Linked DNA regions of Homo sapiens. The protein of the gene in region 4 purifies or fractionates together with the protein of the main gene of each other region. This does not show direct contact. Each region holds a gene or a part of one and is shown on either strand. Other genes may lie near its edges. The genes, in order: HMGCS1, PAK2, PLS1 and OR10H3.

Region 1 (7,038 bases), on a different chromosome or scaffold from region 4:
GGGCAGTCTTCTTATCCATACAGGATTCCTACACTTCTTTTGGGAGAGGGGCTATATATTTTGATTTTTTGAAATCCCTTTGAGACCTTGAAGTAAAGGGTACTCAAATGTCACATTTTTCAGTGGCTGAATTTGGAGTTATAACTACTAGAGGACAAATCTTTTAGATTTAATACTTGTAGCAGCCCTCAGTAGTAAGTGCTTTCTGCTATCACTTTTTAATTTTTTTTTTAATTTATTACTGCTCCTTGCAGAGCAGGGCTACTCTATATGTAGTGTGTCCAGAGTAGCCTGCTATCAGTTTTGAGATGAGCTGCAGCACCATAATGTCTAGTTTAAAGAAACTGGCTCTTTACTGCTACTGTTCAAGGCATATGGTAGGTTTCAATTGTTCCCAGATTCCAAGGTGAAAAATGTAAGAAGCCCATATGGAATCAGAAAACATTTGTTGGTCTTACAATCATTCCCATATGCACCCACAACTAAAAACCCTGCAAAGATGAAGACAACACTTCAGGCTTTCAAAGATTAGCCTCTCCGCTACTGGTGTAACTACACCCAGTTGACAGACATTAAGTGAACATCAACACACGCCATGCATTAGGATGAAGAGATTAAGAGTCTAGTTCTAGCCAGGCATGGTGGCTCACGCCTGTAATCTCAGCACTTTGGGAGGCCAAGGCGGACGGATCATTTGAGGTCAGGAGTTCAAGACCAGTCTGACCAACATGGTGACACCCCATCTCTTCTAAAAATACAAAAAAATTAGCTGGGTGTGGTGGCACATGCCGGTAGTCCCAGCTACTTGGGAGGCTGAGGCAGGAGAATCACTGGGAGGCATAAGTTGCAGTGAGCCGAGATCACGCTGCTGCACTCCAGCTTGGGCGACAGAGCGAGATTCTGTCTCCCCAAAAAAAAAAAAAAAAAAAAATCTAGTCCTATCATTAGGACAGGTAATATGTATCCCACCTTTTAAATCTATACTACCTTCTTGAAAAACATAAAAATATCACACATCCTTCTATGATATTTGGTTCCACAGTAACCCAGCATAAAATTATAAGGCTATATTCCTTTCTAAATGAAACTAATTGGAGATTCTGATATGTAGCAAAACAAACTTCTCCAGCTACATCTCATATCCAATTCCACTGGATTATGGAAGATCCAACCAGGTTTTAAATGATTCTAGAGGACACAGGAAACTGATGTTACAACAATATCGGGTTTTTGCGTTTATTTCTTCTGAGAAAAGCTATCTAAAATCTAAGTCAAAATCTCAAAATCAATCCACAGTTAAAAGAAACAAGATGTAAAAGCAATCTGGAGGGATATTTAAGATGAAAAACAAAATTAAAACAAGGCCCAAATGATGTGGCCTATGGCTCCAAACATAAAATATCCTTTTACACTCCCTCCCCACAGCGTAAGTCAGACCTTCTGAGTGCTGGGGTTACTGATGATTATACTAGAATTGAGCTGAACTAAAGTAGAACCGAATAAAGGGCAAACTTACAAACTTAGGTGAGAAATATCTACAAAGGTAGACACAAAGAAAGCCTTTCTCTCTTCCCATAAGGTATGCTATCCCTGCCCCCTTCTTCACACAAAAATAACTGCAATTTTAAAATAAAGTTTAAAGAACACAAGCTGCTTAGGTGTCTCAAGTGCAAAGAACTACTGACACGGATAATGTTAACGACTTTCAACTGCCTCTCATCTAATAGTATCTGTGCAATAAAGTCCAAAACACATCTCAGAAGGAAAAATCTGTTAACTCTAGGAGCACTTCCATTTGTCTTAATTTTGTTGTTTATCTTGTCATTGTTTTTCATATTCATGCCTAAAACAGAGCAAATGTTAGTTAGCAGCAACCAGAACACATCATCCTACTGCAGCAGGTGGCAAGAGCATCCTCGGGAAGGTGGGGAGCTGCAGCAGAGGTGAGCAGTGAAAGCAGCTACTGATGCCTTAAGGCTAAGGCCATAGGGACAAGCATGACAAACAGGCACAACCTCACATTATTTGTTCCCCAAATCCCTCCTCCAGAGTGGATCAGAATAATCGTTTCTCTACCACTGGTCAAGGCCAGACGTGGGTTTTCAAAGACTCCATATACTTGCTTTGAAATATCCTTAGCTTAATCCAAAACCTATTTGTGGGAGGACTCTGTGAGTGCCTGCCCATTACACTGTATCACCTAAAGCTGGTCCCGAAGGTATTAGTAGGAGAGAGATGTGGGATTTCAGAACACCAAGGAAGCCTATTTTTTAAAACGTAGACAAAAAAAAATATGGAGGCAGGAAGGCGGGAGGCAGTGATCTATGAGATTTGAAGCAAGTACAGACTGAGCCCCAGTACTTAGCCAGGTCTAAATCACGGTTGTGAACGCTTTCTTGCACCTGAGCTGAGGAAGAAAAGTAATGCTACCCACTTCCCTTCTTTCCATCAACTCTATATGTGGCAGCAGGACACACCCCCTGCGAACCTACCAGCCTCCGTCTAAAGAGGATCTTGCCCATCCTTTGGCGTCCACCCTTAACCAACGCTCTGGAAACGCCTTGGTAGCCCAACTGTCTTCTCTCCCCCTCCTGACACCCCCCACTCACCTCTAGGCGGTCACAGCTGCCTCTCTGGCACCTCCAACTCCTCTGTCGTTAGAATACCTAGACCTCAACGCCCTCTCGCGTTCTCCCCTCCGCGACTCGCCTGTGTTCTCGGATCTTCTCAGATCCGCTACGGTCGGCCTCAGGTCCCTCACGAGGGAACCCCCGCCCGGCCCCGCTCACGGTGCCCCATCCTCCCGGGCAAAGTCCACGCCTACGTCCTGACCCAGAGCCCCAGCTCCTTCGGGCCTAGTCAAGGACACCGCCTCTGTCTGGCCCACACCCCGCCCGCGGCACCTCCGCAGCCCAGTTCTACTCCCCAGCGCGGGACACTCACCAAGCGTGACCGAGCGGCAGCAGAGGAAAGGGAGTGAGCCACGAAAGGACAGTCCGCGGCGCCTCCCCTTCGCCACCAGCTTTATAGCCGCCAACCCACCCGACTCCGGCACCGCCGAGAGTCGCTGGGAGGCGGGACGGTGGCTCCCACAGCCAATCGCGGCCGGTAGAGTTGCCCGGCAGCGCCCGCCCCCCAGTCCGGCTTCTACCAATCAAAAGGAAACTAGAGGCGATGACTCGCTAGGATTTTCCCTCGTGGCTGGAAGGGCGGGGAGAAGAGGCGGGGACAAAGTCTCAGGGCCGAGGAAGTGGTGTGAGAGACTGACGTGAGGTGGCACGAGAGCCCAGTTGCCAATGACGGAGCTGCGAGATACGGCGAGAGCCAACGGGAGCGGAGTGAGAGGTTCTCCGACCAATTGGGACTAAGTGAGAGGAGATGCGGGCCAATGGGTACTCCGCGTCCCACCGCTGGAGAGATGGTCAAATGTGGGAGGCGAGGTGGTCCCAGCTTGGGAGTCTGTCAGGTTGCCTAGCAACCAGAACTAGGCTTCACCTGAAAGATTTCTGAAATACTGTACTTGATTTGAATTCAGTCTTAACGTTTTCTAGCAAAGTGTGCGTAGATTGCAAATTGGAGCAGAATACTTCACCCAGAACTTGTATATGTGTAAATAGTCTAAATACCCGATTTGTAAATACTCAAATATTGTCTCCTTTATTCAAAACTACCTTGACTTAAAGAAAACAGAACAAACAAAAGTGCTCTTGAGACAAAGCTTTCTAACTAAACCTAAAACAAAATGGTTTCAGGATTAGGCATCCGTGGGGAGGGTGCAGAGCCTTGCCTGTGAAGGGAAGTTGATACTGAATTCAAGGATTTTTGCCAGGCCATGCACTCTGAGGAAAGGGACTCCATTTGGCCTGTTGCCCACTGTATCTTCTAAGCTTCATATGTGGTACCTGCCAAGTAAAAGGCTGTGGAAAGGCCACGTAATTGTCGGCATAGTAAATCCATCGGATACGGACTGCCTAACTCCCCCAGCAAATAGAGAGGAGCAATTCAAGCTAGAGGAATTCACTGAAACACTATTTGGGGGAATCCAAAGGAGGACACTTGTGGCTTTGCAATAAACTCTGCCTCTATCTGGTCAGAGAGAGAAGCCATAATACTTAGCTTTGGTGGGGGACCATGAGTGAGGTTCGGAGTTGTTTGTATCTCTCCCCATCTCAATTTAATTAACAGGAATGCTATTGATAAGGGGTCATTGGTAATTCTGTGATTCACACAATTATTGTTATGGGAGATTCTTTTAACCACTATAGATGCTAACCTAGTAAGACACATTCTCAGCAGCAAAGTGGCAAAATATATTGGAAATGGAACCACTGTGAAGTGGTGGCATAAATGACTTGGGGGAAGAGGACCACTCAGTAATGATTTCCATTCCACAGTATTGCCCATGACTCACTTCATATGTATGTAAAGTAACTAGATAGTAAACAGAGAGAGAGACATTGCCTGATTATGATCAACAGCAATTTGGGGTGGGGTAGGAGATTAAAATTCTTGGCATATTGGAATATGCTGAAAGGCAGTAAGGACAAACACAAGAAAGAAGATACAGTTTTGTCGTTAGGAATCGCAAATAATTCCAACTCCAGGAGTACATAATGGGAAATGATTAGCCAGACGGTCATGAGAATGACCATCTTACACAACCGGAAATTTCTACAAGGAACAGACCGTCTTTTTGATCACGTTAATCTTCAATTAAGCAAAGTGAGCATGATTATTGATTACTGGGAAGCCAAGCAATGGAGAACAAAAAGGGTTAGTAATTAGATACAGAAGATCTTGTTATAAATAAAGTTTCCATGCTGCAAAAGAAATAGCAGTCGAATATAAAATTTTCTTTTTAATTCTCAGCAAGGCAAGGTACTTCTATAGAAGGGTGCACCCTTACAGATGGAGCAATGGTGAGTGCACACTTGGACGAGGGAGGGAAAGGGGTTCTTATTCCTGACGCACGTGGTCCCCACTGCTGTGTCGTTCCCTTATTGGCTAGGGTTAGACTGCACAGGCTAAACTAATTCCGATGGACTAATTTAAAGACAGTGATGGCGGGAAAAATGGTTATGAAATGAGTCAGGGTGAAGAATGAATTGGAATGAGTCAAGGTGGAGTACGTAATCAGAATGAGTCAAGGTGGAGAATGAGTCAGGTTGGAGTAGGTAATCAGAAAAGGTTGCTTTACTAGGAAGCTACGTTTAAAAGTAGAAGGCAAAGAATGGAACATACTGACATATTAATTCTTTGAAGAGAAATTTAGAATTCATATTTAACAACTTCCTCCTCTTGCATTTTTCTTACAGCTTTCTCTTCAAACTTATTTAACATGTCTTGATTTAGTTGTTCTGCTTGATTTTCCAAAAGAAGAAGCTTTTCTGGATGAGGTGGAGGATAGTTAAGGGAGGTTTTAGTAAGTACCGTTTCTATGAGCCTCTGCACCAACCCACAGATGCATGGTATGACACAGCACCTGACAAGAATAAGTACACCTATTATGACTATGAGGGAGGTAAGAATTGGGGCTATTATTCCTTTCCATTTACCGAACCACTTTTCTAGCCATCCTGTAAAGGGATCATTTACCCGTGAGTTGCTGGCTAACTCATTGGATAGAGCAGTCAGACCTCACAATGCCTTTGTTATACTTCCATTAGGGGTGGCGTTGTTTGGGATGAAGGTGCAACATTGAGTTTTAATCATAACGCAAACTCATCTTCTTTCTGCTAATATCATGTCTAAGGCTATCCTATTTTCCCAAGCCATCTGGCTAATAGCCCCTAATTGCTCAGCTATTCCTTTAACAGCATCTCTAGTGTAGTTAATACATCACTGTTGGTTGTAATAGATGTCGTTTAACCAATCTGCATTTTTATTAATTGTCACCCACCAAAATATTGACTCAAATCCTGCAGCTATTTGATTTCGGGCTTTAAATTGATCTCGTATTCCCTGTGGGACTCCAACTGCATCTAAATAGACGTGAGAGTCGAAAGACCCATAAGGGGCTTCTCTCGCTTTATGATGTCTTATTTTTCCTTCCTCTGGTTGATAAAATGCCAAGGTGAAAGGGATAGCCAACTGGACTAAAGCACAAGTGTCACTCCAGTTATTCAGCAGAGTGTCTAGTAAAGGTCCACCACAATACCACCACACATCCACTCAGGGATGAACAAGGGCTGACTGGTAAGCTCTTAAAAATTCTTAAGCTTACTTCATCCCTCCAGGTCTCCAAGGAATGCTAAGTTTCCTTCCTGTTGTGAGACACACGAAGTGAACTTGGTGTTGGGAGATGGAAGCTGAATGGCCCTTGGGGGCGACCCACAGGGTGTCAGACTTCGGGATATAGTAGAGAGAGAGCTTGGCACGACTTGTTACCCCAGGCTGTAGAATCCTGGAAAACAGCTACCATGCAGCCCATGCCGAGTCGACTGGAGGACCACCTTAGTGGAAAGGGGACAATCTGGGCCTCTGGCCTGCTATGTGCACAAGCATAACAATTGCTTTTGTTTAATGTGTGGATGGAATATTTGATACATTCCACCCAGGCATTTATATCTTGGTATCCTGTCTCAGTTGCCAAAGTTTGTTTTAAGTCTTTAACTTCTACCATCGCTATCTTGGCCTTGTCGGTAGATGGAGGAGGAACAATGGTTCCGTTGTGAGAGGTTTTGGAAAAAGGCTTAAAGGCAGGTGCAGGTGGCAGGGGATCAAAGAAATGCATTTCAAGGATCCAATAGGGTCTGTCCCTGACATCTAGCCCACATGCCATAAAATCGGCTTAAAGAAGGGAACTGGCTTAGAAAAGGGGAAGAACTTTGGGGGCTCAAGATAATAACCTATATAGGATTGCACTGGTTTAGCTGACAGTTATTGGGGGCTGTCCGTTTAGTAAAATGAATGTGTGGTTTTAGGAAATTACAAAAACTGGTCAGGGCAGTCCATCCTTGCTCTTTGGTGGTCCACAGAACGTTGGACCAACTACAGCATAAAAGCTCTGTGTCGGTGGGGGCAAGACTCCTGGTTGCC
Region 2 (7,027 bases), on a different chromosome or scaffold from region 4:
CAACAGAGCAAGACTCTATCTCAAAAAAAAAACAGAAAACAATGAAACACTACTACCTATTGGAATGGGTAAAATCCAAAACAATGATAACATGACATGCTGGAAAAGATGTGAAGCAACAGGAACCCCCACATCCATTGCTGGTGGGAATGCAAAATGGTACAGCCACTTTGGAAGAAAGTTGAACAGTTTCTTACAAAATGAAATACATTCTTACCATACACTCCAGCCATCATGCTCCTTGGTATTCACCCAAATCAGCTGAAAACTTATGTCCACCCGAAAACCTACACATGAGCACTTGAATAGACATTTTTTCAAAGAAGATATACAAATGGTCAATAAGTACATGAAAAAATGCTCAACATCACTAACTGCTAGAGAAATGCAAATCAAAACTAACATGATACCACCTAATACCCATTAGGATGGCTACTATTAAAAACAACAACGGTTGTGTTAAAAAGGATGTAGAGAAACTGAACTGCTGTGCGCTGCTGGTGGAAACGTGAAGTGATACAGGCGCTGTGGAAAGCAATACGGTAGTTCCTCAAAAAATGAAACACAGAATTATCATATGACCCAGCAATTCCATTCTGGGTATGTACCCGAAATAACTGAAAACAAGGTCTCAAAGAGGTATTTGTACACCCATGTTCGTAGTAGCATTAATCTCAGTACCTAAATTACGGAAGCAATCCAAGTGTCTACTGATGAATAAATGGACAAGCAGAATAAGGTAAATACACACATGGGAATACTATTCACCCAAAAAAAAAAGAAAAGAACTTCTGACATGCTACAACACAGATGAAGCTTGAGGATAAGTGAAATAAGTCACAAAAACACAAAATATGATTCCACTTACATAAGGTACATAAGAGTAGCCAAAATCATGCAGACAGAAAGGAGAATGAGGAGTTATGGTTCAATGGGTATAGAATTTCAGTTTTGCAGGATGGAAAGTTTCGGAGATGGATGGTGGTGATAATTGCACACTATAAATGTATTTAGTACCACTGAACTGTATACTTCAAAATGGTTAAGATGGTAAGTTCTGTTACATGTATTTTACACCACAATAAAAAACTCCACACATCAATGTTTACAGCAGCTTTATTCATAATCACCAAACCTGGTCCTTCAATAGGTGAATGTACATCCAGACAATGGAATATTATTCAGTGCTAAAATGAAATGAGCTATCAAGCCATGAAAAGACACGGAAGAACCTCAGATGCATACTGCTAAGTGAAAGAAGCCAAGTTGAAAAGGCTACACGCTATATAATTCCAACTACGGGACATTCTGGAAAAGGCATTGCGATGGAGGTAGTAAAAGGATCAGCGGTTGCCAGGGGTTGCAGTAAAAGTGGGAGGAACAGGTGGAGCAGAGAGTTTTAAGGTGCGGAAACCAGTCGGTATGATACTGGTGGAGACATGTTGTTATACATTTGTCAAAACCCACTGAATGTACAATACCATACGAGCAAACCCTAACGTAAACTGTGGGCTTTGGGCAGTGATGATGTGTGAATGCTGGTTCACTGACTGTGCCAAATATACCACAGTGATGCAGGATGTTGATGAGCAGGAGGCTTGGAGAAGAGGGGCATGAGGAGCATGGGGTATATGGGAACTCTGTACCTTAGGCTCAGTTTTGCTGTGAACCTAAAATGCTGCAAAGTCTATTAATTAAAATGAATAAAAATTTCTAAAAATCATTAGAAATAAGAGAGTGACACTCAACCAACACATACTTATTTCATACCTATTTGTTCAAAGCTCTGTAAAACAGAATAGTATATTAAAGAAAACCAAATAAATGAAAAAGAAACTTCAGATGGAAGTGCTATAAAGGAAAATAAACACACTGAAGGGCAGGAAGTTAGATGCGGAGTGGGGGTAGGCAGAGGTGATCATGAAAGATCTCTTTCAAATATGGCCTCAGTGACATTCAGGCAGAAGAAATAAAAATCTAAAGGTCCCAACGTGAGAACAAGCTTCTCAGAAACAATGCTACCTCTTTGTCTTTGGCAGATTAGGAAGATTTTTACATTAATAAGAATTATTAATAACGACTATAGTTCTTACTAGGACTAATAAAGACTAAGTCCTATATTTAGTAAGAACTATTTATAAAAACTGGTAATTCATACAAATAATCTTAGTCATTAAATTTAATCAATAGGTTATGTATAAAACTCTGTATATTACCAACAGAAAATGTTCTAAGTTTTCATAGAACATTTTCCAAAATGGATTATGTTTTAAGTCACAAGAAACACTCAATAAGTTTAAAAGATATTTTAAAAGATTATAGAAGCTGACAACAATGAAAGAAAATATGAGTGAATAGAATTATCCTAAATACCTCCTGAGTCAAAGAGGAAATCAAAACTAGAACCACCAGCTATTTGGAAAATACTGAGCAGAAGAACATTGTCCATGTAAATTAGAATGTGCAGCCAACGCTGCATTCAAAAGCAAATTAAGAACATTAAAGGTTTTTATTATTAAAAGACATTAAAATGAACTAGCTTTGCACAGTGGCGGTATCGTAGCCAATGAGGTCTATCCGAGGAGCGATTACCGCTCATCGAAAACACATTAAAGGAACTAAGAATTCATTAAGAATTAATAACATTAACATTAACTTAATGTTAACATTGTTAACAACAAAAAAAAAAAGCAGGAGAGCAAAATAAAGAGAAAAGTAGAAATCAGGCATTCAGAAAACAAACAAAAAAAAACCAATACAATAAGTAAATCTCAAAGCTGGTTAGTAAAAAAAACCACTAAGTAGACAAACATTTGGCAAATTCAGAAAAATAGTGAAATCACTAATAAAAAAAAGGAAATGAATACCACAGATCTTAATGACAAAAGATTATACACACCTATATAGTAACAGATTTGAAAATCTAAAAGAAATGATCTAGGAAATACGAATTATCAAAAGTGACTCATGAATAAGGATTCCTGAATAGGTTATAGAAGTTAACTACAGAAGTTATCATAAAGGCCTATCCTTTTTTTTTTTTTTTTTAATGAGACAGAGTTTCACTTTTGTTGCCCAGGCTGGAGTGCAATGGCACGATCTCGGCTCACTGCAACCTCCGCCTCCCGGGTTCAAGCGATTCTCCTGCCTCAGCCTCCCGAGTAGCTGGGACTACAGGCACCTGCCACCACACCTGGCTAATTTTCTATTTTTAGTAGACACAGGTTTCTCCATGTTGGTCAGGCTGGTCTCAAACTCCAAACCTCAGCTGATCCACCTGCCTCGGCCTCCCAAAGTGCTGGGATAACAGGCATGAGCCACTGTGCCCGGCCTATTCTTATTAATCTAAATTTATATGAGATTCTCCTCTAACCTTTCAATAAATTCCGTACGCAGGACTAATATGAGTGGGATTTTGGTTATTCACGATATATACCTTGTGATACCTTTGATTAATAGCAAATTTACTATTACATATCCTCAGCAATAGTTAAAAGAAGAAAACCATATCATCATCTAAATGTTACAATAGCATCTCATAAAATTCAGAAGCCATTCCTATTTTTTGTAAAGCAGAAACAGAATAAAATAATAATCTTTCTCTAAATCCAACAGCTGCCATCATCCCTAACTGTAAAAATATTAATACCAGAGTCATTTCAAGACAACGACACGTCTCTTGTTTAACCAAGTCTTGGAACTTCAGGCCAATGTAATAAAGACCTAAAACAGGGTTAAGGGCTGGGCACGGTGGCTCATGCCTGTCCAACACTTTGGGAGGCTGAGGCAGGCGGATCACGAGGTCAGGAGATCGAGACCATCCTGGCTAATACGGTGAAACCCCGTCTTTAAAAAAGAAAGAAAAAGAAAAAAAAAAAAGGTTAAATATTGTAACCATAGAAAAGTGACTGAAGTTACTATTATTCTCAGATAAAACAATGAACCTGGAAAACAAAATAAAGACGTTTACTGAAGTCCAGTAAGATAATAAAAATACCAATGAACAGAAAAATCTAGTTACTACTTCTTCTTTTTTTTTTTTTACTTAGAGATGGAGTCTCGTTCTGTTGCCCAGGCTGGAGTGCAGTGGCTTGATCTCAGGTCATTGCAACCTCCGCCTCCCGGGCTCAGACAATTCTCCTGCCTCAGCCTCCGGAGTAGCTGGAACTACAGGTGTGCACCACCACACCCAGCTAATTTTTTGTGTTTTCAGTAGACACAAGGTTTCACCACGTTGGTTAGGCTGTTTCCAACTGCTGACATCAGGTGATCCACCCACCTAGGCCTCCCAAAGTGCTGGGATTACAGGCGTAAGCCACTGCACCCGGCCAAATATTTTTATACCTGTATTTTATTTCTGTAGCAAAACTATTTTAAAACTCTTTTATCCCCACCAGGCATGAAAAAATTCCAGAAAGATTAAGATTGAAACACAATGGGCTGGGCACGGTGGCTCACGCCTGTAATCCCAACACTTCGGGAAGCCAAGGCAGGCAGATCACCTGAGGTCAGGAGTTTGAGACCAGCCTGGCCAACATAGCAAAACCCCGTCTCTACAAAAAAAAAAAAAAAAAAAAAATCAGTTGGGTGCGATGGTATGGTGCCTGTAATCCCAGCTACTCGGGAGGCTGAGGCAGGGGAATCACTTGAACCCGGGAGGCGGAAGTTGCAGTGAGCTGAGATCCAACACTGCACTCCAGCCTGAGTGACAGAGTGAGACTCTGTCACAAAAAAAAAAAAAAGATTGAAACACAATAATTATTAAAAGTACCAGAAGAAAACACATAAGAATGTTTTTTGTAAAGGTGGAATGAGGAAGATCTTAAACAGAAGGCAATAGATTAATATCTATTACATGTGAAGAGCTTCTACAACTCAATAAGGAAATATACATTACAAGTCTTTTTGGAATGCAATTCAAAAAAAAAAGAAAAAAGAAATTTAAATGCACACTTACAAGTCGTTTTAATGGAAATACTTATCTACATATGCATGTGCACAAAGACATACGTATAAGTTCATTAAGGCTCTAGTTTTAGTTGCTCAAAGTTAGAAATAACATAAATGATCACAAATAATTAAAGTACTACCATACAGCATAATATCTAATGACTTAAAAAGTAGAGGTGCCACTATATGTCATGATATGGAAAACAATACTTAATGATCAGATTTTTTATTTTAAAATCAACATAAAAAGTATCCGACACACAAAAGGTACTACTTATTTCTAACTCAGTAAGTAAAACTATTAACAGCGGGTAGGTACTTCTAAGGAATGGGACTAAAAAGAGAAAGTAATTTTCACTTTTTAAGAATTTTATAAGACAGGGTCTTGCTCTGTCACCCAGGCTGGAATGCAATGGTGCAATCATAGCTCACTATACCTCCAACTCTTGAGCTCAGGTGATCCTCCTGCCTCAGTCTCCCAAAGAATTTTCACTCTTTAAATATTTAATTGACTTGTTTGAACCTTTTATAATAAATATGTACTGCTTTTAGAATTTAAATTTAAAATAAGGAACAAAACCACTGTTCCAGTTTGTTACAATGGTTCTGCCAGCTGAGACTAAGGTAATTTTGTCTTAAAAGTTTTTACCACTTTCCAAATTTCTTATTTAATATTTTTTTCTACTTTTATTTTTGTCTGATTTAAGAGATGGGGTCCCCCTGTATTGTCCTGGCTGACCTCAAATTCCTGGACTCAAAGGATCCTCAGCCTCCCAAGTAGCTAGGACTACAGGCACCACCAGCCACTGCCCACTTTTCAACTTTTATACAGGAAATATGCATATTTTTAAATCTGAGAAATTTGTGTTCAAAAACCCTATGTTTTATTTCAGTGGTGAAACTATTACATATTTTTTCTCCTGAAAAATTACATTTTATTCATCCAAAAGTAATTTTTATTTTTAGTTACGGTCTCAGAAACTTCGTTCTTTTAGAAGGCAGTTTTTTGTTTGTTTGTTTGTTTGTTTTTGAGACGGAGTCTCACTCTGTCACCCAGGCTGAAGTGCAGTGGCGCAATCTCAGCTCACTGCAGCCTCTGCCTCCTGGGTTCAAGCAGTTCTCCTGCCTCAGCCTCCTGAGTAGCTGGGATTACAGGCGCCCGCCACCACGCCCAGCTAATATTTTTATTTTTAGTAGAGAATACTAAATTCTCTACTAAAGAATAGTAGAGAATATAGGTTTCACCATGTTGGCCAGGCTGGTCTTGAACTCCTGACCTCAAGTGATCGGCCCACCTCAGCCTCCTAATGTGTTGTGATTACAGGTGTGAGCCACCGCACCCGGCCTAGAAGGCAGTTTTAATTCTAAGTTTAGGAGTATCGACTCTACAGCATGTAAGAACAGACTATTAACTAACGTTTATTAAGACCTATAATTACAGAATCCTTTACCTGCATTCCCTCATTTGATCTAAATATCCCTGTGAAATTGGTATTATTATTATTATCCCCATCTTACAGGTGAGAAAAGCAAGTCTTGAAAAGAATGTATATCTTGCCCAGGGTAAAGTAGAACAGCAAGAATTCAAACGCAGGACTCTAGCTCCTAACCACATGGGATACATGGAGTAAGTACTAAAGAAACTCAGAGATAGTAGGCTGGAACACTGAAATCCTGAATGAATGTTCAGACTGACTACCCTTAACCAGGCAGGTGACCCTAGAAGGGAAGAAGTGATGAAACTCAACTCTGATCACAGAAGAAAACAACCAGTATTTTATTTTTTGGGGGCAATGAGGGATTTTTTTCCTTTCCTATTCTGCTCTGTTAAGGCACAAAAAGGATACTAGGAAGAGCTTGGACACACAATTTGCAATTAACACCCTCCCTCTGATTAGTCTGGAAACTCAACTCTTATACCAAACTGATGGAAACCTTTACGACTTAAAGTCTTGAAGTTGACCCAGTTTCTTTTTCTTTTTCTTTTTTAATGAGACGGAGTCTCGCTCTGTAGCCCAGGCGGGAGTGCAGTGGCGCGATCTCGACTCACTGCAAGCTCCGCCTCCCGGGTTCATCA
Region 3 (7,027 bases), on a different chromosome or scaffold from region 4:
CCCAGATGGAAAGAATAAATGGTACTAATAAAAAGAACATTCAGAATGAATATATTTATAGAGTATAGAAAAGTACTAAATACAGTACCTACATTAGGAGGGGTCAAATCTGCATTTCATGAAGCAAAACAGGAAAGTATTATATATTATGAGACAGATAACGATAGACCACACAAAAGACAAATAACGAACACTGTAATTTTTTTCATGTACACTAAAAACCTTAAAAAGAGAACAATACTAGAGTCAAACTGGACCTTTCAAAGGAGAAAAACACCTACAAATAATTATTTTATTCTAATAGATAATTCATTGTCCATGTTGGTGGTAGAGCTGTTATGTGATCATTTATGAGAATATTTTAAATGTATGATAGTTTTCACTAACCTCTTATGGAGAAATAAAAGATTTACCCCAGCATTCTCTTTTAACCAAAACCAGCAACCACCTTCCATAATTTTAATTTTTCAATAGATACACATACCTACACACACTAAATTGCATTTCCCACCACAATCCCCTATCTCTGACAGTGAAGTAAGACAATACCATAAGAAGATAAATATAGCAAGTCAATTAAAGGCAGAAAGAACGCACCTTCCAGTAAATTCATATCGATGTCATTATTATTCGGCTTGTGCAGGCACGGGTATGTGTTAAACAAATTAGCTACAAAAGCTAAATTAAGTTTAGGATTGCCTGAAACCACATCTGCAGGAGTAACAAACTGTTTGCAGCCCAGTTTATCTGCTTCTTGAAGCATGAGTCCAGCACGCTTCAGGTCATTTGTCTCCTAAACAATAAAACAAAAATGGTTACAATTGAAGTTTTAATTGGCATAATTTTTATTGGTATACATGTTTATAAGCAATTACTTTTCCACAAATATATCAAATAATAACTCAAAATAAGATCAAAATGTGTAGTAATTCCAAGTCAACTTACCCATTCCTTTATTTATTTATTTATTTATTTATTTATGTATTTAGAGACAGAGTCTTGCTCTGTTCCCCAGGCTGGAGTGCAGTGGCGTGATCTTGGCTCACTGCAACCTCTGCCTCTTAGGTTCAAGTGATTCTCCTCCCTCAGCCCCTGAGTAGCTGGGATTACAGACACATGCCACTATGCCCAGCTAATTTTTGTATTTTTAGTAAAGACAGGGTTTTGCCATGTTGGCCAGGCTGGTTTCGAACTCCTGATCCGCCCACCTCGGCCTCCCAAAGTGCTGGGATTATAGCCGTGAGCCACTAAGCCCAGCCCCCGTGCCTTTTAAGTTAAAAGGAAAAAAGTCTCTGAATTTCCTTGCTGGGATAACTGAGTTATATTTTACCCTTTTTGCTAAAATACTCAGCAAAATCCTCAAATATTGTATCAGTAAGCTCCTACTGGTTGCACTATAGATAACTTATTCAAGACCAGCTAGTAGAGTGCCCTCTGGATAACAGGCATAGTTATCATACCCACTGTACACTGAGTGACATTTCCAGAAGGCTCTTCTTGATGAAAAACAAGTTGAAATACATATTTTAAAAATTAAAATCATAGGGAAAAGCACCTTTCACAATTGCAAAACCCTGGAAACAAATGAAACAACCCAAATACCTATAAACAGGAGAGTAGATGAATGAATTTGTATATTCACACAATGACATCCAATATGGGTAACTCTTAGAGATACAAGGCCAAAAAGAAGTACTAGAAATTTAAGTATAACATGATAAACTTTAAAGGAAGTTAAAAAGTAAAATGAAGAATTTAATTTTGTAAGGGATACATTTGGATGAAGGGAAACTACATAAAAAGAAAAGCAGAACAACAATGAACACAAGATTCAAGACTGTGGTTACCACACTGGGCGAAAACCGAGGTGGGATAGGGAAGAACTGTACAGAAAATGTCACGTCAAAGTTTTAGTTTTCCTGTTAGATTGAGAGTTCATGAGGCTTGTTACAATTTCAAAACAAACAACCACACACAAAAATAAATTTAAAAATGGGTATGCACAGACCCATATGAGTATATCATGACCAAAGATAACCTACCTAATTCTGTGCACCAGAGTTGCAAAATAATTAATCATATAAATGAAATCAGAGAAAGCAACAGATTATTAAATTAACAAAGAAAAGTTACCATTGTAGACATCAAAAAATGACAATATGTGGCTGGACGTGGTGGCTCATGCCTGTAATCCCAGCACTTTGGGAGGCAGAGGCAGGCGGATCACTTGAGGTCAGGAGTTTGATACCAGCCTAGCCAACATGGTGAAACCCCGTCTCTACTAAAAACACAAAAATTAACCAGGTGTGGTGGTGTGCACCTGTAATCCCAGCTACTCAGGAAGTGGAGGTAGGAGAATCACTTGAGCCCAGGAGGCGGAGGTTGCCATGAGCCAAGATTGTGTCACTGCACTCCAGCCTGGGCGACAGAGCAAGACTCCATCTAAAAAAAAAAAAAAACAAACAAATAAAGACAACATGTGGACCTTATTTTAGATCCTAATTCAAATAAACTATGAAAAAAATGGCATTTATGAGGCAAGTGGAAATGTCAACATTGACTAGATATTTTGATGATGTTACAGATTGTTGTAATTTTTTTAAGGTATGATAAGGTATTGTGGTTTTATTTTAAAAGTGTCTTTGTCTTTTAGAAATATATATTGAAATATTTATCCATGAAGTAATGTCTAGGATTTGCTTCAAAATAATATAGGAGAGGAGAGAAATAGGGAATAAACGAGATAAGATTGACCATGAATTGGCAGATGTTGAAACTGAGGGATGAGTACCTGATAGTTTAGTATACTAAGTCTGTTCTCTTGAATATATTCAAAATTTTCCATAAGTTTAAGTTCCTAATTTTTTTACTTAAAATGATTTGCACATTTTACAGAGCGTTGCAATACTGTGTTTCTGAAATATGTCATTATAATAATGTGAGATATAATTAATTAGTAATGACTCAAGTTGCCTTTAAAACCAAATGTTACGGACGCCGCACTTTAAGTACGTGATATATTTTCATACAGTCTATTATCTGACCAAATTTTAATGTTTAGAATTCAAGTTTGTCCAACCCACGGCCGGTGGGTCACATGCGGCCCAGGACAGCTTTGAATGTGGCCCAACACAAATTTGTAAACTTTCTTAAAACACTAGATTTTTTTGCACCTTTTTTTTTTTTTTAGCTCATCAGCTATTGTTAGTGTTAGTGTATTTTATGTGTGGCCCAAGACAATTCTTCTTCTAATGTGGCCCAGGGAAGCCAAAAGACTGGACATCCTGATTTAGATAGAACCATCCCTGGTATTTATAACTTATGCTAAAAGAATGAGATTCCTAGGAAGTATGCTTGGTAGGTCAGAATCTGTATCAGTCCTTCCTACACCATGAATATCTATTTTTATTTTGTAGATTTCTAAATATAAGCTGGTAAAACTGATAATTGATTGCTTAAAAATCTAACAACAGGTTGTTGCTTCCTTTCCTGGCATATGCTGACAGTCAAAAGAGCACCCTGGTGAGTTCCAATTGCCTTGCACCAGGGAAACATGAATGTAGGATTGATTCCACAAATACTCCAGGTCACAATTACGCAGTTCCCTTTCTTCCGTCATGATAGCCAGTTGGCTTGACATGGAGGCTTGGAGCCTTGGGCATGGAAAAAACTTCCATAGAGCAAAGCACCAAACTTTAATGGAGGGCTGAGGGCTCTACTGGGGAATGCTGCTTGTAGAGAACTGTACTCTAAATTTGACTGTACCTGCTACTGAAATTCAAATTCATAGTCAAAAAGTAGAACAGTAGTTACCAGGGCCTGGGGGAAGGGGAAAATGGGGAGTTATTGTTTAATGAGTACAGAATTTCCCTACAGGATGATGAAAAGTTTGTAGAGATGGATAATGGTGATAGCTGCACAACAATGCAAATGTACTGAATGCCACTGAACTGAACACTGAAAATGATAAAAATGGTAAATTTTCTACGTCTGTTTTACCACAATATATTTTAAAAGTTAAAAATTGCACTCACATTAATTCCTGAAAGGTCAATGGCAATGGCAGGTCCATCTTCCCCACCTTTAGGGGCAATCTGATTAAGCAGATGAAAATAGGCTCTCGAGTCCTTCAAGGAAAGATATGAAATAGCATTTTTAAAACGAATAAAATCATCATTGAATTTAGGGAAAACAAGTGCTCAAACTGAAGAAATTGCCTCTATCTCAAAGAATGGAATAACTTTAAAAATAAAGAATTACTTGTAGGTTCCTGAATGTACCATGCTGTTTCACACTTCAGAGCTTCAAAGCAATCCTGTTTCACACCTCAGAGTTTATAGCAATGCTGTTTCCTGCACCTGGATACCCTCCCTTACTTTTCCATCTGTTTACACACCCAAGCATCAACATCAGTTAAGATTCAGGTCAAGTATTATCTCCCGTATGCCTTCCCTGGATTCTCTAGGATGAACTAAGAACCCCTCTTCTGTAGTGCACAGCACCCCTTGCCTATCTTAATAAGTAAACAGTGATCACACTATTAAATCATCTAATGTCATTGTCTCCAAAGATGGATATATAGTTCTTCCCCATGCATACATTAACTCTTCCCACCAAAAGGCAGAAGCTATTTCCTGTCCTCTTTAATTTGGACAGGCCTTATGATTCACGTTAACTAAGAGAATGCTGTGAAAGTGATGTTCTGGGGCTTCCACGCCCAAATCTTAAGAGCTTCTGCTTCCTCTCTCTTAAAGTTAACCTCTACATAAGAAGTCCAACTATCTGAGACTATCATGCTGTGAGGAAGCCTGAGCTCACCATGTAGAGAGGCCTTGTGGAGGAGCACTGAGGCACCAGACATGTGACTGAGGCCTTTGTGTACTTTCCAGATGAGCCCAACTGACAGCTGAATGTAATCGAGTTAGTAATCCCAGCCAAAACCATGTGAAGCAGAAGAACCACCCAGCCAAGATGCATCAACCCACAAAATGATGAGAAATAATCATTATTTAAGCAAATTTTGCATAATTTGCTATATAGCAATAGATAACTGAAATATCCCTCTGGTACATGTTTGTCTCTGAGTAGAATTGGCAAGCTTCTCAAGAGCTGAGTCTTTGCATCGCCTGGGCATAATGCCCCTCAGAAAGAGCTGAATAAATGTTTGATTAGCTGAATTTTCAGAGATTTCAGAATAAGAGAAATCTCCCAAATAAACTTTCAAATATAACAGTGTATAGTAGATGAAAGCAGAGAAATAAAATGTCACTTCAAATTGAGAGACTGTCCTGTAGGCCATTATGGAAAAAGATAACCTGACTGAAGGTTATATAGCTAAAGACGGAACATGAATTAGAGCCAGCACTGATTACTCTTGGGGGGCAGGATGGGGGAGGACATAAAGAAACAGAGAGAAGAAAAAAGTCACAGCGACCCGGCTTGGCAATGCCCATCCAGGCAGTAACCAAGGGAAAGTTGTCATTAGACAAAAATGCCTGTTATAGTTTCCTTGACAAGATTCTCCCAGTAGAGAGGGAAGTGTTTTAAGCTACCCTGGTTAAGGCACATACCTTAAGATCCCCTTTATTTACTGATTCTCTGTACCCTCAGATAATCTGATTTCCTGTTAGCTGGTTATTGGCAAAGTGGGAGTAAGAGTGTTAAACCAGTAAACAGATATAATTATTAGTCCAAATGAACAGACTGACATCCTCATTATAATCTAGCAGATCTCAGGCATAAAAAATGAGAAAGTGTGTTTTAATCTGTTGAGGCTAGCACCTCTTTCCTCTCACAGTCAGTTGTAGTTCTTATTAAAAGCCAATATATCTGGTTTTTAGAAAATATATATTTTGTGAATATAATTGGGGGATCTACTTCACACAGTAATGCAAATTTTCATTTTCTATCCCAAGTGTTCTTGTGAATTTAATTCAAATTTAAGTCTGAACCCCTTTTATTTTTACACTGCACATCCTTATTTCATGTCACAAATTTGAACATTTAAATATAAACCTTAATGTCTTGGCTGAAGTTGCTGATGGTATGCCATCCTGCATTGGTCAGATGGTAGTTCACCCATCGCAGCAGTAATTCCTCGGGAGAAAGCTTCATCAGCTCCTCTAGTTCCTCACCTTCATTTAACAATGCAATCAGAGCTGAGGGCAAAACAGCGAAATGTAAATTCTTCCCATAGCAAGTACATGTCAATGAACAGCAAATATTTCTAATGATCTTACCTTCATTCCTGGAAATCTCAATATCAGCAAAAAGGCCAACTTTGATGATCTGCCAGAGAAGTCCCAAGACCAAGTGAGGTTTTCCTTCTTTGAGATCTGATGCACCAATGTTGACCACTGTACAACCAATGGCTGAGGCAGAATTCAGAGCTAGGTTTAAATTTTCCTGAATTGCCAAAAAAAAAAGTACACATGAGGAAGTCCTTTCTAAGGTCTTATCTATAAAAATTATCTATAAGAAACAATGGACTGCCAAATTTCAGATTTATAAACATAATATTTATACAACGAAAATACCACTACTCAAAAAAAAAAACACATGGTTTTAACTGTTACTTTATATGCCAATGACTTTCAAATCCCTATTTCCACCCAGACCTCCTCTGAGTCTCCACTCTAAGCTGTGTATCTATATATGTACTTGGTTATGTCTACCTGGATGTTCTGCCAATACCTCAAACTCAACATGATATTTTTGTAAAGTGCTCATTTGGAAGCACTTCTTTAAAAAATGATGTACAATTAGGTTTTAAGATAATTTTAAAGTAACTCTTAAGATGGATTTTACAGATGAGGAAACTGCAGCACTGACAGTTTCCACAGTGGAAAGGCCGGGGTCTGATCCCAGCGGTCTCCCGAGCCCATCCTCTTTTTTATTTATTTTTTTTGAGACGGAGTCTCACTCTGTCACCCAAGCTGGAGTGCAATGGCACTATCTTGGCTCACTGCAAGCTCCGCCTCCTGGGCTCACGCCATTCTCCTGCCTCAGCCTCCTGAGTAGCTGAGAC
Region 4 (7,417 bases):
TTTTTGTTCCCCAAGAGTCTTTGTCTTTTAATTGCTTATTTAACCCGTTTACATTTATTTTAATACTCATTTATTGATACTCATTTATGCCATCTTATTTCAAATTACACATTTACTATTCTAATAAATCTGAATAGAAAATTCAAAAATAAAAGGATGGGTAAATATATGTCTGAAGAATATGCACCAAATGAAAGCTGAGGCTGCAACCTTAATAAAAAAGTGGAATTTAAGGAAACAATGATCGCAAGGTCTCTAATACAATACACCTCTACAGGGAAGTAGAGTTCCTTAACACATGGCTGATCTGTGGTCTGGACATGGAAGAAAGCCTTGGACATCTTCTACCAGTGTAAAATGAAATTTTCACTAAGTAATGGGATAATATTAAAAGCCTGCAGGTACCAGATTGAAAAGATGCCCACTAGTCAAAAACAATAATCATTGTACAGAAGATGGAGGAACAAGCTAAATTATATAATGAGAAAGCTTTCAGAAAAATCCAGAAGGTGGATAATTCCACAGAACAATTGGTCTGGTTTCACTGATAGAGGTATATTGAAAGGATAAGAGAGATTCCAGGACATAGTAACTGGATGCAACATAGGGGACTAGTTGAATCTTGATCTACATAACCAGCTGTAAGTATTTTAAGGCAATAGAGAACATTTTGATTACAGTATGAATGAATGATTACGTATGAGTAATATTAAAGCATTATTATTGATCTAATTGTGAATTTTTTAGAGACAAGGTCTCACTCTGCCCCCTAGGTTACAGTGCAGTAGTAGGATCATGACTCACTGCATCCTGGAACTCCTGGGCTCAAGTTATGCTTCTTCTCAGTCTCCTAAATAGCTGGACTACAGATGTGTGCCACCTCACCTGTCTAATTAAACATTTTTTTTTTTTTTTTGTAGAGACAGGGCTTTGCTTTGTTGCCCAAACTGGTCTCTAATTCCTGGCCTCAAGCAATCTTCCTGTCTCAGCCTCCCAAAGTGGTGGGATTATACACATGAGCCACCATGCTCAGCTAATTATTTTTGTAAGTGTTATCTGGTTATTTTGACTATGAAGGTAAATGTTTAGTTTTTCAATGCATACCAAGATTTTTACATCTCACACACACACACATGCACACACACTAAGGGACAGAGAATAACATTTATACCCATTAAAAGAACATAGCAAACAGCATCAATACTATAAATCCATGTAACTATATATCCTGGAATATTCATTAACAAATAATCAATACAACTTCAGTGAGATAGATAGAAATAGCCAAATCGACGGCAGATTGATTATTTTTTTTTTGAGACGGAGTCTTGCTCTGTCACCCAGGCTGGAGTGCAATGGTTCAATCTCGGCTCACTGCAACCTCCCCTTCCCAGGTTCAACTGATTCTCCTGCCTCAGCCTCCCTAATAGCTGGGATTACAGGCGCGTGCCACCACGCCTGGCTAATTTTTGTATTTTTAGTAGAGGCAGGGTTTCACCATGTTGGCCAGGCTGGTCTCAAACTTCTGACCTCAGGTGATCCGCCCACCTCAGCCTCCCAAAGTGCTGGGATTACAGGTGTGAGCCACCACACCTGGCAGATAGATTATTATAGTTAGAAATTTTAACAGAGTTCAGAAATGCAATTTATTAATTATTAATTACAAAGCAATTAATAATATCCAGACATTAGCTATTATATATATTAGACTCTTCACCAAAAAGAAAATTAACACTCTTTCAACCACTCAGCGACTTTTACAAAAATGGACATTTCATTAGAATATAAAAATTTATTTAATTCCAAAGCATAATAATATGATATAGATTATAATGAATTAACATTAAAAATCAATAGGGAAGAAATAGCTTTACAAATCTCATGTGTTTGGAAGATAACTATATAATTAAATAATCTACAGTTTCAACAGTAAATCATAAAATGGAGGAATATTTAGAATTAAATGATAATTTAAATATTGAATGTCAACATTTTAACCTAAAATAGTACTTTGAAGGAAATATACAGCTCAAAATACCTTTATCAAAAAACTGCCTCAAGAAAAAAATCATGCATAATAAAATCAAAATCAAGTTATTGGAAAAAATTAATAAGATAAACAAGGAGAAGGTACCAATAACAGAACCCAAAATTACAAATGGGAAATAATTACAGAGATAATTGATATTTTTAAATTAATAAAAATAGTAAAAGAAATAACAAATTTACATTGTAGATGAAATGAACAAGTACTTAGAAAAATATAAAATTCCAAAACTGGTGCAAGAAAAAAGGGGATGCTATATGCTCAAATAAGCTTTAAAGAAATTGAAACGGTAGTCAAAGATCGTCTCTCTAAAATCTTTGCCCCAGTGGGTTTTATTAAAGTGCGGTAAGTACTATTAAACTGTTAAAAAAAAAAACAGTTGGTTAGAATCTTACACATGATCTTCAAAAAAATAGAAAAGAGTTAGGAAATCTGACAAACACATCTCCTCAAGTTAATGCAATCTTTGTCTAAAATCAGGCAAGAATCTTCACCGAGAAAAAGAGACAATTATAGGCCTACTTCACCTATCCAGGCAGATTTAAAATTCCAGAATAAAACATAACCTATTCAAATCTAATGGTGTATTAAAAATAGTTTACCATGATCAAGTGGCATTGGTTTATTCCATAAATGACAAGATTGGTTAACATCAGAAAACCTATCATACAATTTATCACAGGAATCGATTTAAAAAGAAAAATCATGATTATTTCAATCAAGGCATAAATACATTCTCTAAAACCCTACTCCTATTATGATTTAAAAAAAAACACTTCACAACACAAAATCCAAGGAGACTTTCTTAACTAGATATAGAATATATAGCACAAATTAGCAAATACAACACTGAAGAAGAAACTTTTCCATGCATCACTTTAGAGTCAAGAAAAAGCCAAGGATACTCACTAATTCCGCTGTTCTTTAACATGGAGCTGAAATTCGTGAGTGATGGTATAAGGTAAGGGAAAGAAACAAGTTATCTAAGGTATCTAAGGACTGGAAGGGAAGAGACGTGATCATCTACCTAGAAAAGATGAAAGAATGATGACATCATGTATTAGAACAGCAACAGAGCCCAGTGATGCAGAAGGCAAGGTCAGCTGGCAAAAACCCCAGTGATCCTCCTAGTATCACACCAGTAACAAGCATTCAAGAAGTATAATCTGAATACAGAGAAAGAGAACAGTCCCAATAGCAACACAAACTATTAATATAAAGAAACATCGCTCAGGATCCCTTTACACCTCAAAGTTACTAAGCACTCTAAAGGGCTTTTGTTTATGTGGTTTAGAACTATCCATTTTTACCATATTGGAAATGAAAATTGAAAATTATTAAAAATATTTAGTTATTAGTATATTTAAAAAAGCATGCCCAGGCACGGTGGCTCACGCCTGTAATCCCAGCACCTTGGGAGGCCGAAGTTTGTGGATCACTTGAGGTCAGGAGTTTGAGACCAGCCTGGCCAACATGGTGAAACCAGGTCTCTACAAAAAATACAAAAATTAGCTGGGCATGGGGGCACGCGCCTGTAATCCCATCCACTTGGGAGGCTGAGCCAGAGAATCACTTGAACCCGGGAGGCGGAGATTGCAGTGAGCCGAGATCATGCCACCGCACTCCAGCCTGGGCAACAGAGTGAGACTTCGTCTCAAAAAAAAATTTCTAAAGAGCAATAGTAAGTCTATTGAATGCTAATATGGGAAACATTTTCAGGCAAATAATCACATTAGGAAAAAAGCATTTCATGAGAAGAGTGGCCTTGTTTGACATTTTAGCCAATACCTCATATGTCCTAGCTTGGCAGGAAACAGCTTGATGGTTTCATCTGCCTCTTCATTCAGTCTGTGGCAATATATTGAAGCATATGATGAAAATATATTCTCACATGTAAATTTGAAAAATAAGGATTTCAGGGACCACTCTGCAGAGGTCCTCATGTCACACTTTGAAAAAATCTGCTATAAAATATCTAGGAATTAACCAAAAACATGACATAGCTCCAAAGAAAAAATTTTAAATACATACTAATAAAAATGTAGAAGATGATCTGAACACATGGGGAGCAGTATAGAGTCTTGGCTGGGATGGCCTGATGTGCTAATGGTGTCAATTCATCCTCAAATTATAACCTCAATACTTAATAATACTCAATAATATAATATTGTATTATATTTACAATTCCAGTGAATCAACTGTAAATTTGATAAAACTATTTGAAAATTCCTTCAGAAAAATAAATATCAGGCCAGGCACGGTGGCTCACACCTGTAATTTCAGAACTTTGGGAGGCCGAGCTGGGCAGAACACTTGAGGTCAGGAATTCAAGACCAGCCGGAGCAACATGGCGAAAGCCCGTCTCTACTAAATATACAAAAATTAGCCAGGTGTGATGGCCCACTTGTAATCCCAGCCACTTGGGAGGCTGAGGCACAAGAATTGCTTGAACCTGGGAGGCGGAGGTTGCAGTGTGCTGCCTGGGTGACAGAGTGAGACTCTGTCTAAAATAAATAAATAAATAAATAAATAAATATGGAATCAAGGGAAGAGCTGTTCCCTCCCACGCGCTGAGACACACAATAGAGTCATAGTCATTTTTAAAATTATGAAACGTGGAACAGACCTAGGTCTGGGTAAGTCGATTGGAAATCTCAGAAAATAACCCTGCATTATTCAAAACCTAATATAGTACACGATAAATGTACTGGCACAAATCAAGAGGAGAAGGTAGGTTGTTCACCCATTGTAGTGAGAAAACTGCTCATTTTATGAAGCAAGTCAATCCGAATTTCTGCCAAACTCTACATACAAAGGAGGATCCAGATGCATTCAAGAAATAAATACCAAATATCAAGGTGTAAATTTAAGAGAAGAAAGTATAGGAGAATAACTTTGTGATCTAGGCTTGAGGAAAGACTTCCTAAACAAAATTTCCAAAGCACAATCATTAAGATGATTTTTAAAACATTAAAAAAATCAACATTGAGGATTTCCATTCAACAAAGGATTTCCAGGATGAAGTTAACAGGCAGATGGGAAATGGGGAAAAATTATTTGCATTGTCTAAAACCGACAGGAGCACATCCAGTGGTGTGGGGAATTTCTTAAAAACTGACAAGAGAGTTATATCTAGAACAAACAAGGAACCAGTTATATCAAGAAGAAGTAGGTATCTTAATGCAAAAACGAGCAAAAGATGTGAGAAGATAATGCACAGGAATTACTCAGGCAGATGAAAGGATGCTCGAAAAAAAAGAAAAAAGAAAAAGAAAACAAAAAGGAAAAGAATGGAGGGAAGGGGAAAATGAAAGAGAGAGTGGAATTTCACTGTATACCTATGCAATTCCCAAAATTATAAAATGTCCAGTATTGGTTGGGCTATGAGGAGAAAGAAATATTTACGCACTATAGGCTGGGCGCGGAGGCTCACGCCTATAACCCCAGCACTTTGGGAGGCCGAGGGAGGAGGATCACATGAGGCCAGGAGTTTAAAACCAGCTATGCCAACATGGCAAAACCCTGTCTCTACCAAAAAGACAGAAATCAGCCAGGCTGGAGGTACACATCTGTAATCCCAGCTACTTGGGAAGCTAAGGCATAACAATCACTTGAACCCCTGGAGGTGGAAGTTTCAGTGAGCTGAGATGCCGCCACTGCACTCCAGCCTGGGCCACAGAGTAAGACTCCATCAGAGGAAGAGGAAGAGGAAGAAGAAGAAGCAGAAGGAGAAGGAGAAGGAGGGGAAGGGGAAGGGGAAATACTTACATACTATTAGTGGGCATGTAGAATGTTGGAAATTAAAATTTTTAATGGGATTCATGCTCTGTGTACCAGCAAATTTGCTACTGTATATCTATCTTGACTTCTGAAACCTGTTTATAGGGGGACATGTAAAAGAATGTTTCCTGCAGCAGTTATTTTAGTGGGGGTGATGGATAAGCCTGCTTGTCCCTAACTGGGGAGAAGGCAGGTAAAAGTATATAGAGGCAAACAACGGATATAGAGGCAAAAGGATATAGAGCTTTTGTCACGAGTTAGATGCACACATAGTAATATAAATGAACTTTTAAAATAATATTGAGTGAAAAAAACAAAAAAACAGAATGAACTCTTGTGGACACATTAAGAATATATGTACATAAAACTATTCTGAATGATATAGTAATAATGAACCCATGTCATTTGTCAAAATCCATATACACAATGCAAAGAGCATAACCTAATACAAACTATGAAATTTAGTTAATAACAATGCATCAATATTGGTTCATCGAGTGTAACACAGGTGATACAGAAATGCAAGATGTCAATAATAGGAGAGACAATCCCACATGCAGGGGTGAAGCGTATGTGAGAACTCTCTATACTTTCTGATCAATATTTCTATAAAGTTAAAACTGCTCTAATAAAATTAAGTCCATTAATTTACCATTTTAAAATAGTCACATTAAATTTTGTGCAGACAGAAAGCAATGTGTTTCTTACAAGAACATATACAAATCAAAAAGTGCATACTAAGTGTGTGAAAATGCCTGTCAAAGAACGGAAACAAAGTGAAACAAATGAAATAAGAGAAGGATCTTTCGCAAATCAATGTTAATCAAAAGCCACAAACTGAAAATATCATGGACTCAAACCTTTGCACCTGAATTCTACCATAAAAGAAACAAATATTTTTATGAATAATGTGAGCCACATTGCTACAAGAGTTTCTGAAATCTTTCTTTCTGGATGGGCCCATTCATCATTACATCCCCCTAGCAGTCTCACTAGGATATTGTCTGAAGTATCCCCTGACCAAAGCAGGAGTCAGTCAGGCGCTTGGAGAACACAGAATCACCCGGACAGTGAGGAACTTTACTGGAGTGAGGATGACGTATCCCACATGAAAAGACCACACTTATGACACGGAAGGAAAGTCTTCTGACCACGAAGCTGCCCTACCCAGAAACCATACTCCAGCATCAGCCATCTTCCTTCCCCATCCCTCCCATTGCTGGGCGCCCTCTCTCCTACTAAGCACTTCTCCATCTGCTCCCTTCCTCTCCATCCCCTCTCCTGGGCCACTGCCCCATCCTCCTCATCTCCTCTCCTCTGCACACACTCCACTCTGGCTTCCAGAGAGAATTTCCTGAAATGTTTACAAGTTGTGGAGGCATCAGACTCAGGGTGGAAACCCCAGCCATCACTGTGTGTCTTTGGAGAAACGACTTTGCAGCTTCGAGGCTACTCTCCCCAAGTGAAAAACAGGAGTAACCAGAGCACTGTGAGAGTCCACCTTGCAAAAGTCATTGTCATTGACTGATAATGATTTTGGTCTTCTGAGCTGGTTTGTTTGTGTTGTTCTGTTACAAATGTCACTTGCTG

Evidence for each region.
Region 1: the proteins of OR10H3 (region 4) and HMGCS1 purify together in Homo sapiens (affinity purification with mass spectrometry; 3 studies listed by BioGRID and IntAct, with this or other methods). This does not show direct contact.
Region 2: the proteins of OR10H3 (region 4) and PAK2 purify together in Homo sapiens (affinity purification with mass spectrometry; 3 studies listed by BioGRID and IntAct, with this or other methods). This does not show direct contact.
Region 3: the proteins of OR10H3 (region 4) and PLS1 purify together in Homo sapiens (affinity purification with mass spectrometry; 2 studies listed by BioGRID and IntAct, with this or other methods). This does not show direct contact.

Annotation. Positions count from the first base shown.
Region 1 is NC_000005.10:43,310,413-43,317,450, forward strand, and holds the start of HMGCS1 (hydroxymethylglutaryl-CoA synthase, cytoplasmic), read right to left. Parts: upstream 3,001-7,038; 5' UTR 2,944-3,000; intron 2,770-2,943; exon of another isoform or gene 2,610-2,769; intron 1-2,609. UniProt on the Homo sapiens protein: Catalyzes the condensation of acetyl-CoA with acetoacetyl-CoA to form HMG-CoA, which is converted by HMG-CoA reductase (HMGCR) into mevalonate, a precursor for cholesterol synthesis.
Region 2 is NC_000003.12:196,742,835-196,749,861, reverse strand, and holds part of PAK2 (serine/threonine-protein kinase PAK 2), read right to left. Parts: intron 1-7,027. UniProt on the Homo sapiens protein: Serine/threonine protein kinase that plays a role in a variety of different signaling pathways including cytoskeleton regulation, cell motility, cell cycle progression, apoptosis or proliferation.
Region 3 is NC_000003.12:142,683,384-142,690,410, reverse strand, and holds part of PLS1 (plastin-1), read right to left. Parts: intron 6,406-7,027; coding exon 6,240-6,405; intron 6,159-6,239; coding exon 6,016-6,158; intron 4,128-6,015; coding exon 4,035-4,127; intron 794-4,034; coding exon 598-793; intron 1-597. UniProt on the Homo sapiens protein: Actin-bundling protein. In the inner ear, it is required for stereocilia formation. Mediates liquid packing of actin filaments that is necessary for stereocilia to grow to their proper dimensions.
Region 4 is NC_000019.10:15,733,591-15,741,007, reverse strand, and holds the start of OR10H3 (olfactory receptor 10H3), read right to left. Parts: upstream 3,024-7,417; 5' UTR 2,957-3,023; intron 1-2,956. UniProt on the Homo sapiens protein: Odorant receptor.